Homo sapiens: one gene and its partners. The protein of the gene in region 1 purifies or fractionates together with the protein of each later gene. This does not show direct contact. Each region holds a gene or a part of one and is shown in the gene's direction. Other genes may lie near its edges.

Region 1 (3,652 bases):
TGGCATAAATCCTAAGAGAAACCAGGCAGGGGAGGGAGTCAGGACTGAGGCTACTCCAGTTGGAGGAGGCTGGGGCATAGGGATGAACAGAGTCGAGAGCCCCTCAGAAATGGGGTTCAGGTCTTGACTTGTTTTTTCTCCCAAGCCCAACCCCCAAACCTCTGGTTCCAATCCCTGGTAGCTCCCTGAGAGACAGGCATGACCACTGATTTCCACAACCCAGGGAAGCACCCTCATAGACTATTTTTTGAATGACCTTGTTCTGGAGTTTCACCCACAGACTGACACTGGGGGGCTGCTCTGTTCCCAGAGGCAGGGGAATGTTTGAAGACCCCACCAGACCTGGGAAGCAGCAACAGCTGGGGCAGGAGCTGAAGGAGCTGATGAACACGGAGCAGGCCTTGGACCAGCTCATCCAGAGCTGCTCTCTGAGCTTCAAGCACCTGACTGAGGACAAGGCCAACAAGAGATATCCTCCTTGGTTGGGGGAAGGTGTCAGGGAGCAGGAACCTGTTGCATGTTTATATCTATCCTGAGTTGATTCAGTAACTTACCCTAAGGGTCTGGCATCTGTTTCTTCCTTCCTGGGTGGCTTTTCTTCTCAAGTCTATTTTTAAAATTATTTATTTATTTTTTTTAGAGACAAGGACTCATTCCGTCATCCAGGCTGTAGTACAATGGCATGATCATAGCTCGCTATAGCCTCGCCCTCCTGGGTTCAAGTGATCCTCCCACCGCAGCCTCCTGAATAGCTGGAACTACAGTCATGTGCCACCATGCCTGGCTAATTCTTTATTTTTTGTATAGACAGGGTCTCGCTTTGTTGCCCAGGCTGGTCTCTAACTCTTGGCTTCAGTCGATCCTCCTGCCTCAGTCTCCCAAAGTGCTGAGATTACAGGCATGAGTCACTGTGCCTGGCCTCAAGTTTATTAAAGGTATTTTTTCATTATTGAAAATAAGCCAAGTAAATTTCTTTAAATCTGGAAAACGGAGAAAAAGAATGATGAGCTGCCACCTTAACATAGCCATTGTTCTTGAACTGCACACAGAATGTGTTTTATTTCAATATAGTTGTAATGTAGTTGTGTGCCTGCTGAACATAGCTTTTTTTTTTTTTTTTTTTTTTTTTTTTTTTTTTGAGACAGAGTCTCACTCTTGCCCAGGATGGAGTGCAGTGGCACAATCTCGGCTCGCTGCAACCTCCACCTCCTGGGTTCTAGTGACTCTCCTGCCTCAGCCTCCTAAGTAGCTGGGATTACAGGTGCCCGCCACCATGCCTGGCTAATTTTTTTTTTTTTTTTTTGAGATGGAGTCTTACTATTGCTGCCCAGGCTGGAGTGCAGTGCCATGATCTTGGCTCACTGCAACCTCTGCCCCCTGGGTTCAAGCGATTCTCCTGCCTCAGCCTTCCAAGTAGCTGAGATTACAGGCGCCTGCCACCACACCCGGCTAATTTTTGTATTTTATGTAGAGACGGGGTTTCACCATGTTGGTCAGGCTGGTCTCGAACTCCTGACCTCAGGTGATCCACCCACCTCAGCCTTCGTAAGTGCTAGGGTTACAGGAGTGAGATACCGCACCCGGCCTTCACACCCAGCTGATTTTTGTATTTTTAGTGGAGATGGAGTTTCACCATGTTGGCCAGGCTGGTCTTGAATTCCTGACCTCAAGTTATCCACCCGCCTCAGCCTCCCAAAGTGCTAGGATTACAGGCATGAGCCGCCGCGTTCGGCCGAATATCTTTATACATAGAATGCTTTCCCATATTTTTACTTGTTTCCTAGGTCAGATCCCTAGGATTGAAATGATGAGGTCAAAGAGCATGGACTTTGCTAAGGCTCTTTCATACATTTTCCAAAATCATTTCATATCTAATTGGTTTTGGATCTGACCTTGTATTTTTGGAAGGATGCTAGGCATTGTGAGAAATATAAAGAAATAAAACACATCTTCCTGCCTTCTCAGAGCTAATGATCTAGTTTGAGAGATGAAGCCTTTACATAAGGCAACATTTTTTATGATTTATAATGTAAGGCAACATTTTTTATGATTTATATTCCCATTTGCTTTCCAAAGGGATCTAAGGTAGCTTATGAGATTAACAGGTTACAGATTGTATTATTTCTAAGTTGTACAAGGAGTGAGAAAGTAATGTTCAGAGGCTTAGGAGAGGTGGGTGAAGGTGCTCCCTGGCAGGTTTGGGGTTTGAATTTTGACCAGACAGTCACTTTTCTTGACTCTCCTGCCCTACGCTGGCCTATGTGACTTACCAGGATATCCGTGCTGTTGGCAACTTTAAGGAGCAGACAGTGATTGCCGTCAAGGCCCCTCCGCAGACGAGACTGGAAGTGCCCGACAGGACTGAGGTGAGAGGGGAAATATTTGGTGGAGAGCAGGGTTGAGACCCTGCCAGGGAGCGTTCCAGGCGGCTCTGCAGACTCTGTCCCTGGCACTGCCTAGCCCCATGCTTTGCAGGCCCATTGTGGTGTCCATGGCAATATTGGTGGCCTTCAAGCTTGGGCAGAAATGGCAGAAGCTGGAAAGGGCAACGGAGACTGAGTAGTGGCCTGAGAAAATCTCTGTTCCTGGTTTCTTTCTGCATCCCACCAGCCCTGGGTTCCTGCGCACATGCACACTCATGCCCACGTATGACGGTGTCAATACTCATGAAAATCCTTTCATGCTGACCGTGCTTTCCCAGGTTAAAGACCAAAATTCCTGACACTCCCTATGAGGCTTCGGTGCTCTGAGACCCCAGCTGACGTTGCCAACCTCCTTTTCCCCGCTGCCCCATCTGTCTTTGTTTTGGCCACACTGACCTGTCTGCAGTTTCCCCATTGCACTAAGCTCATTCCTAGTATGAGATCTTCTGTTTTGTTTGATTTATTTATTTATTTATTTATTTATTTTTGAGACAGAGTCTCACTCTGTTGCCCAGGCTGGAGTGCAGTGACACAATCTTGGCTGACTGCAATCTCCGCCTCCTGGGTTGAAGCGATTCTCCTGCCTCAGCCTCCCAAGTAGCTGAGATTACAGATGCCCGCCACTACTCCCGGCTAAGTTTTGTATTTTTTTTTTAGTAGAGATGGGGTTTCACCATGTTGGTCAGGCTGGTCTTGAACTCCTGACCTCATGATCCACCTGCCTCGGCCTCCCAAAGTGCTGGGATTACAGGCATGAGCCACCACACTCAACCTATTTGATTTTTTTTAAGACAGCGTCTTGCTCTGTCACCCAGGCTGGAGTGCAGTGGCATGATCTCAGCTCACTGCAACCTCTGCCTCCCGGGTTCAAGCCATCCTCCCACCTCACCCTCCTGAGTAGCTGGGACCACAGGTGCATGCCACCATGCCTAGCACATTTTTTGTTTTTTTTGTAGAGACGAGGTTTTGCCACGTTGTCCAGGCTGGTCTTGAACTTCGGCATAGAAGTGATTTGCCCGCCTTGGCCTCCCAAAGTGCTGGGATTATAGGCGTGAACCACCGCACCTAGCCGTGCAAGACCCTCATACATGCTCTTCCCCTCGAGCTGAAATGTTCTTCCCTCTCTGCCTGATTTACCGCTATTCATCCTACAGGTCTCAACTCAAATGTCACTTCCTCAAGGAAGCCTTCTCTGATTACCTCCAGACTTCATAAACACCTGTGCTTTT
Region 2 (3,652 bases), on another chromosome or scaffold:
ACACACACAGTTTGGTATTCTGATGAGATGTCATCTCATTGCTTCAATTTGCATTGTTCTGACCACCAGAAAGTTTGAAAGTCTTCTGATGTATTTGTTAGGTGTTCTGATTTCCTCTTGTATGAATTTTATGTATATTTTTACCTGGGTTGTTAATTGTATCATTAGCAGTTTTGCTGGTACTCTGGGTGTGTTGCAGATATTAACCCTTTGTTATGGGTTATTAAGGTTGTTTGTTGTTTGTCTTTTGATTTTGTGGGTTTTTTTTACTTTGACTTCTGTGTACATTATAACCTGCCTTTAAATATGTATCTCTTTTATAGGTAAAAGTTTCATTTGATCTGAATACTATTCAAATAAAATACCTGGATGAGGAAAATGAAGAGGTAAAATATATTATGGCACTTATTGCTAGGTGTTCAGAATAGGGATCTTATTTCTCCAGTGATATGGGCTTTAATAATTCAAAATAGTGTTTAGCTTATTTGTGTGGTGGTTTAAATATATTTGATAACTGAATATTCTAAGAAGACTTGCAGCATCTGAGATGGAGTTGAGAAATGGAGAAGCAACACTGAAGAATATCTCAGAGATAACTTTCACTTAAAAAAAAAAAAAGGAAACAGGGTCTCACTATGTTGCTCAGGCCAGTCTTGAACTCCTGGGCCCAAGCAGTCCTCCCACCTCAGCCTCCCAAAGTGCTGGGATTATAGGTGTGAGACACCCACCATGCCTGGCCTGGCCTGAGAGAACCTTTTTTTTTTTTCTTTTTTTTTTTTTGTGAGATGAAGCCTCACTCCATAACCTAGGCTGGAGTGCAGTGGTGCGATCTCTGCTCACTGCAACCTCCAGCTCCTGGGTTCAAGTGATTCTCCTGTCTCAGCCTTCTGAGTAGCTGGGATTACAGGTGTATACCACCACGCCTGGCTAATTTTTGTATTTTTAGTAGAGACGGTATTTCACCATGTTGGCCAAGCTGGTCTCGAACTCCTGGGCTCAAGCGATCAGCCCACCTCGGACTCCCAAAGTGCTGGGATTACAGTTGTGAGCTACCACACCTGGCCAAGATAACTTTTAAAATTATATAGTGACCTTAAGTTCACATATAGCACAAGCTACCACTTAGTTTATAATAATACAAATATAATGGCTAAGCTTTTTTTTTTTTTTTTTTTAAAGAGGGTCTCACTCTGTTGCCCAGGCTGGTGTGCATTGGCATAGCTTGCTGCAACCTAGAGCTCCTGGGTTCAAGGAATCCTCCCATCTCAGCCTTCTGGGTAGCTAGGACATACCTCTCTGCATCTGGCAAAATTTTTTAATTCTTTGGAGGGATGGAATCTCACTTTGTTGCTCAGGCTAATGGCTAAGCTTTATTGAGTGGTTACAGTGTGTCAGACTAGCCACAGTACCATGTATTGAGTACATTATTATCATCACTATTTTACTCATGAGGAAACTGAGGCACAGAGAGGTGAAAATAACTTGTCCAAATGCACAAAAACTTGGAAGTAGTAAAGTAGCCGTTCAGTCCATACCCTCTGGCTGTAGAACTCAAGCTCCTAACTGTTATATTGCACTGCCTTTTAATGTATCTGAAATAAAGGAGGGCACAGTAGATAAGCAATAAAATTTCTTAAGTGTTATTCATGACTAGCAAGTGATATGGAAAAGCTGAACGCTTGGCCTGAGTTTTTGTCTGTCCTATGGGGCTGGTCCTAGTAACAGAAATGCTCAACTGATGAGACACTTATAATTCACTGTTGCTTTTTTTCCTTTTATAGGTATCCATCAACAGTCAAGGTGAGTCCCTAAGAGAGTCTGTTCAGCCTTGTTTAAAAACCTTAATCTGCTCATTGAGGCATTTCTATTTATACTCAAACCTTATTGCAGTATTAATTTTAGAGTGACATTGCACTGATGGACATTAGTTACCTAGGGGATTTTATTGTATAGCAGTTTTTTATATATAGGATGATGCCTTTGAATGGACCCTAAGGACAGCTTTAATGGGAGGTTCTCATATTTAAGATGCCAGTCCTCTGAAATTAATATGCCTCCCAGTTCAACACATATAAGTATTCCCATGGTGTTGCATTTGTTTCTGACTTGGTATATATGTTAATATCAACTTATAAAACAAGTGGTATTCCAAAAGTTTATTTATCAGATGTTCAGAGCTTGGAGTGCATTTTCCCATAGGAACCATGTTATAGTTGAAGATTAGTTTCCCACGATAGCCCCTAAAATCTTAATTTAATCAGGTGAAATGATAGTATTAACATTGAACTCTCAGTGCGTAAATGTGAGGGACCTGGGTTGAGATTTTGTAACTGGAAGATTCCCAGTAGTGATGAAGGAGGGATTTAAGGGGAAGAACTGATCTACAGTAGATGCTGTTTGCAACAAAAAGGGAGTTTGTCAGCAAAAAGATAGTTGCTGTTCATATATAATAAGCTAAGAATTCTTTAAAGTCAGGATTAGCTGTACATTTAACAAATTTTTATTGTATATATTGAAGGTGCACAACATGATGTTATGAAATACATATACAGTAATGCATCGCTTAATGACAGAGATTTGTACTGAGAAATGCATCAATTAGGTGATTTTGTCATTATATGGACATCATAGAGTGTACTTACACAAACCTAGATGGTATAGCCTAGTACACACCTAGGATATATGGTATAACCTATTGCTTATAGGCTGCGAACCTGTAGAGCATGTTACTGTGCTGTATACTATAGACAGTTGAAACACAATGGTATTTGCATATCTAAACATAGAAAAGGTACAGTAAAAATGTGGCATTATAATCTTATGGGATCACCATCATACACATGGTTGACCAAAATGTTATGTGGCAATGGTTACTGTAGTGAAGCAAATTAACATATCTATCATCTCATTATAGTGGCCCTGTGGTGCCCTGAGCCCTCCCCAGAAACCAGCCATAATCTACTCATTTAGCAAAAATCATGAATATAATTTACGATTATTTAACTATAATATGTTCCTCATGTTGTACAGTCCATCTTTAGGATTGGCTATCCTTAATCTTATGGAATCTTTGGTTCTTGAATGAATGAATGGATGTGTACAAAATAAAAATAATTTTAAAATAATAGAATCTTTTGGGGTGTGTGAAGAAGTATCATGGTGTATATTTTTTGTTCTTTTAGGAGAATATGAAGAAGCGCTTAAGGTAATGATTATTTAATCTCATTTTTAAATAATTTAAAAAATATTATTATGGGTTGGTTTTTTTTCTTTTTTTGAGATGAGGTTGTGCTCTGTCATCCAGGCTGGTGTGCAGTGGCACAATCTGGGGTTGCTGCAGTCTTCACCTCCCAGGCTTAAGTGATCCTCCCACCTCAGCCTCCCGAGTAGCTGGAACTACAGAAACACGTCACCACGCCCGGCTAACTTTTTATATTTTTCTTAGAGACAGGGTTTCACCATGTTTCCCAGGCTGGTCTGGAACTCTTGGGCTCAAGCAATCTGCTGGCCTTGGCCTCCCAAGTGCTGGGATTATAGGCATGAGCCACTGCGTCTGGCCTAAAATATTTATTGACTGAAACTCAAACCTGAATTCCATTAGTTATGGGGAGAGACTAGTACGTATAAACACAGTGAAACCTGTTTATAGGGA
Region 3 (3,652 bases), on another chromosome or scaffold:
ACCAAAATTATCTCTGAAAGCTGACACCAAGGAGGATGGAGAAGAGAGAGATGATGAAATGGTGAGTGCCTCTGCCTGACACCAGGAGCACAGGGATGCATCTTTAGTGGGTAGCATCACAGTCACAAGCACTGCTCTGGAGCCCACTGAGTTCAAATGTGGGTTCCAGGACTATCTGTGTTAGTGTCAGTAAGTTACATGGCCTCTGTGTGCCTTGCTGTCCTGATCTCAAAATGGGAATCATAAACAATAGTATCCTTCTCTCAGGGTGAAAAAGTGGGATGTCCTGAAATTTAGTGCTAGGGTGAAAGGGAACATTTAAAAACCTTCAGTCTTGTAGATGAATCTTAAATTCCTCTTGACAACACAATGCCAATCTCATTTCTTTAAATTGCAGACAGATCTCATAAAACTATCTGAGTGGGCTGGGCGTGGTGGCTCATGCCTGTAATCCCAGCACTTTGGGAGGCCGAGGCCGGCAGATCACGAGGTCGGGAGATCGAGACCATCCTGGCTAACCCGGTGAAACCCCTTCCTTACTAAAAATACAAAAAATTAGGTAGGCGTGGTGGCAGGCTCCTGTAGTCCCAGCTACTCGGGAGGCTGAGGCAGGAGAATGGCGTGAACCTGGGAGGTGGAGCTTGCAATGAGCTGAGATTGCACCACTGCACTCCAGCCTGGGCGACAGAGCGAGACTGTGTCTCAAAAAAAAAAAACAAAAAAAACTATCTGAGTGGTTAAAAAATGGCACACAAATATCAGGTATATTTGGGGAAAAGCCATTCAAAATGTGTGAATTAAAACATAAATATCATATTCCTAAAGGCATCTATTAATGGTTTTATAGGAAAAGGGAACTTTGAGATCTGGAAGTGTTTCCGTTGAGATCGGTATTGTACAACTGTTACTTGGGAGTCACTGTTCTAGGAGCTGAGAATACAGGGATGCATAAGACAAATAGATGACATAGAGTCTCTCCTGGCAGAGACACTGCATTCTTGTTTAGGGGGTAGTTAATCTACAAACAAAATGAACAGGAGAAATGTCACCTAGTGATAAGTGCTACGTTGAGAATTAAAATAGGGCATTAGGATTGGCTGACTACTTTAGGTTGGGTTGTCAGGGAGCCCTCTCAAAGACGATGGCATGAACAGTGTGATCTGATGAATGAAGAGGAGTCAGCTATGTGAAGTTGAGAGTGAGGCGTCTTCTGGGTAGTAGAACTTCCAGAGGAAAGTCCTTAAGGTAAGAACTTGCACAGCATGTTTTGTTCGAGGAAATAAAAGGAAGTCTGGTCACTGGTTTAGGAGAGGGTGGAGTAAGATGAAGTTGAAGAGGTACCTGTGGTCCAGGGCATGTAGGGTTTTATGGTAAACAAGAGTCGAGGGTGTTCATTGTATTCTGAGTGTCAGGGGAAGCCTCTGGAAAGTTAAGACAAGGGAATGCTTTGATATGATGTATGTTTTAAATGACCACTGTAGCCCTGAGTGGAATCAGGGAAACCAGTTAGGAGTTTATTGCAGTAGACAACGTAAGAAGGCTGAAGATGATGGAAGTCCGTGGATTTGGGAATCAATGTTAGAGGTAGGGTTGTCAGAGTGTGTGAGGAAAAGAGAAAAATCAGGGATAAAACTTTGGCTTTAACAATTGGCTGGATAATCCTGTCTCTTACTGAGAATGGGAAGATGAGGGTGGAGTGCAGAACACAGAGTCCTTTGGCCATGATGGGTTTGAAATGCTGATTAACCATCCAGGTGAAGATCCCAAGTAGGCATTTGTCTACAGCCACATGGAGTAAGGAAGAGGAAGCTGAGGGTGTGGATTGGGAGTATCTGGCCTATGTAAGATGACCTTGAAAACCCAGGGAAAGGGACTAGAAAGAGTAGAGAAGGGAACTGGATTGGAGGAGACATCAGCAGAGGAGACAAAGAGGAGCCAGTAAGGCGTGAGGAAAATCAGAGCAGAGCGGTCACGCAGCTGAGAGCAGAAAGTGTTTCAAGGAGCGGGGAGCGGTGTCCATGCCCTTCCAACCGGTAACACGTGGATACAGTCTTATTTTGTAATAACCTCAGGCCAAAAGCAACAGTTTTCAGATGAACTATATTCTTACTTTCCTTAAAAGTTACAAAGTAAAACTGAAGAAAAGAACAACAGAAAAAGTGCTTTCTGATAGCTCTCTAACTATTCACTGGTGCCAATTTCTTGAACTTTAAAGTCATAATTTTCCTTTCTTTTTGTAGGAGAACAAACAAGATGTAAGAATCCTGAGGGGTTCGCAGAGAGCACGGAGGAAAAGACGAGGGGATTCGGCTGTACTAAAGCAGGGTGAGCTGATGAAAATAAAGTCTTACTTGTAACTTTATGAAATTGGAAATGGTTCACACAGGTGGAAATTTTAGTCATGCCACTTAAAGTATTACTTCAGGATTTTCTTTGATTCAGTTTGGTCAATAAAGATTTGAGATTTTGAGGATAAGGAAAAAAATGAAAATTCTTAACTTTCAAGTGGTTTCAGGGTAAGCATGAGAACTGTCTTCCTCCCTCCCTCTCTCCCTCCCTCTCTCCCTCCCTCTCTCCCTGCCTCTCTCCCTGCCTCTCTCCCTCTCTCCCTCCCTGTCTCCCTCTCTCCCTCCCTTTCTCCCTCCCTCCTTCTCTCCCTCTCTCCCTCCCTCTCTGTCTCCGCCTCTCCCTGTCTCCCTCCCTCCCTCCCTCCCTCTCTCTCCCTCCCTCCCTCTCTCTCCCTCCCTCCATCCCTCTCTCCCTCTCTCTTTCTCTCTCTCTCTCTCTCTGTTCCCCTCATCAAGTAGGTGTTTCCTGCCTCTGCTTCTCTATAAAACCTCTGTTCTTGTTCATTTCCCACAGTTTTAGGTTTTTAATGTTCCCTCTCAAAACATGAGCTCCTGGCGTGGAACCTGTTTTTTGCCTTCTCTTTTCATCTCTTCTGTCTTCTCTTCCCTTCCCTTCCCTTCTGTCCCCTCCCCTTCCCTTCCCTCCCCTCCCCTCCCCTCTCTTTTCGAGATGGATTCTCACTCTGTCACCCAGGCTGAAGTATGGTGGCGCAATCTCGGCTCACAGCAGCCTCCACCTCCTGGGTTCACGTGATTCCCCTGCCACAGCCTCCCAAGTAGCTGGGATTACAGGTGTGCACCACCAAGCCTGGCTAATTTTTGTATTTTTAGTAGAGATGGGGTTTCATCATATTGGCCAGGCTGGTCTCGAACTCCTGACCTCAAGCCATCTGCCCGTGTCTACCTCCCAAAGTGCTGGGATTACAGGCATGAGCCACTGTGCCTGGCCCTTTTTTTTGTTTGTTTCATTGTTCCTCAGGCAGCATTTTATTTCCAGGAGGAAACCGGCCCTGAAGCCCTTCCCTTTAGTATTTGTCTTGATGTACTTTTCTGCTTATTCTGTGTGGACCTTGGGTCACTTCCATAGAGGCCCTGGGGGATGTCCCCCACAAGGCTCTATCCCCTTGCCTGCCTCAGCTTGCAGCCTGCACAGTCAGTCATACTGTCCCGACAAACCAGGGCCATGAACCAGGTGCTTCTCCTCAGTGCCGGGGTGCATTCTAGCCTTGTTCTGTTAATTCCTCAAAAAACTGGAAATAGCCCCACCTGCCCTAGGCACACAGCTTAACTTTTGTGTCTTTTCA

The links.
Region 2: the proteins of E2F2 (region 1) and NBR1 purify together in Homo sapiens (affinity purification with western blotting, with the first as the bait; one study listed by BioGRID). This does not show direct contact.
Region 3: the proteins of E2F2 (region 1) and L3MBTL3 purify together in Homo sapiens (co-immunoprecipitation; one study listed by IntAct). This does not show direct contact.

Annotation. Positions count from the first base shown.
Region 1 is NC_000001.11:23,517,730-23,521,381, reverse strand, and holds part of E2F2 (transcription factor E2F2), read left to right. Parts: intron 1-310; coding exon 311-469; intron 470-2,251; coding exon 2,252-2,366; intron 2,367-3,652. UniProt on the Homo sapiens protein: Transcription activator that binds DNA cooperatively with DP proteins through the E2 recognition site, 5'-TTTC[CG]CGC-3' found in the promoter region of a number of genes whose products are involved in cell cycle regulation or in DNA replication.
Region 2 is NC_000017.11:43,177,613-43,181,264, forward strand, and holds part of NBR1 (next to BRCA1 gene 1 protein), read left to right. Parts: intron 1-323; coding exon 324-386; intron 387-1,781; coding exon 1,782-1,800; intron 1,801-3,182; coding exon 3,183-3,205; intron 3,206-3,652. UniProt on the Homo sapiens protein: Ubiquitin-binding autophagy adapter that participates in different processes including host defense or intracellular homeostasis.
Region 3 is NC_000006.12:130,052,931-130,056,582, forward strand, and holds part of L3MBTL3 (lethal(3)malignant brain tumor-like protein 3), read left to right. Parts: coding exon 1-61; intron 62-2,240; coding exon 2,241-2,325; intron 2,326-3,652. UniProt on the Homo sapiens protein: Is a negative regulator of Notch target genes expression, required for RBPJ-mediated transcriptional repression. It recruits KDM1A to Notch-responsive elements and promotes KDM1A-mediated H3K4me demethylation.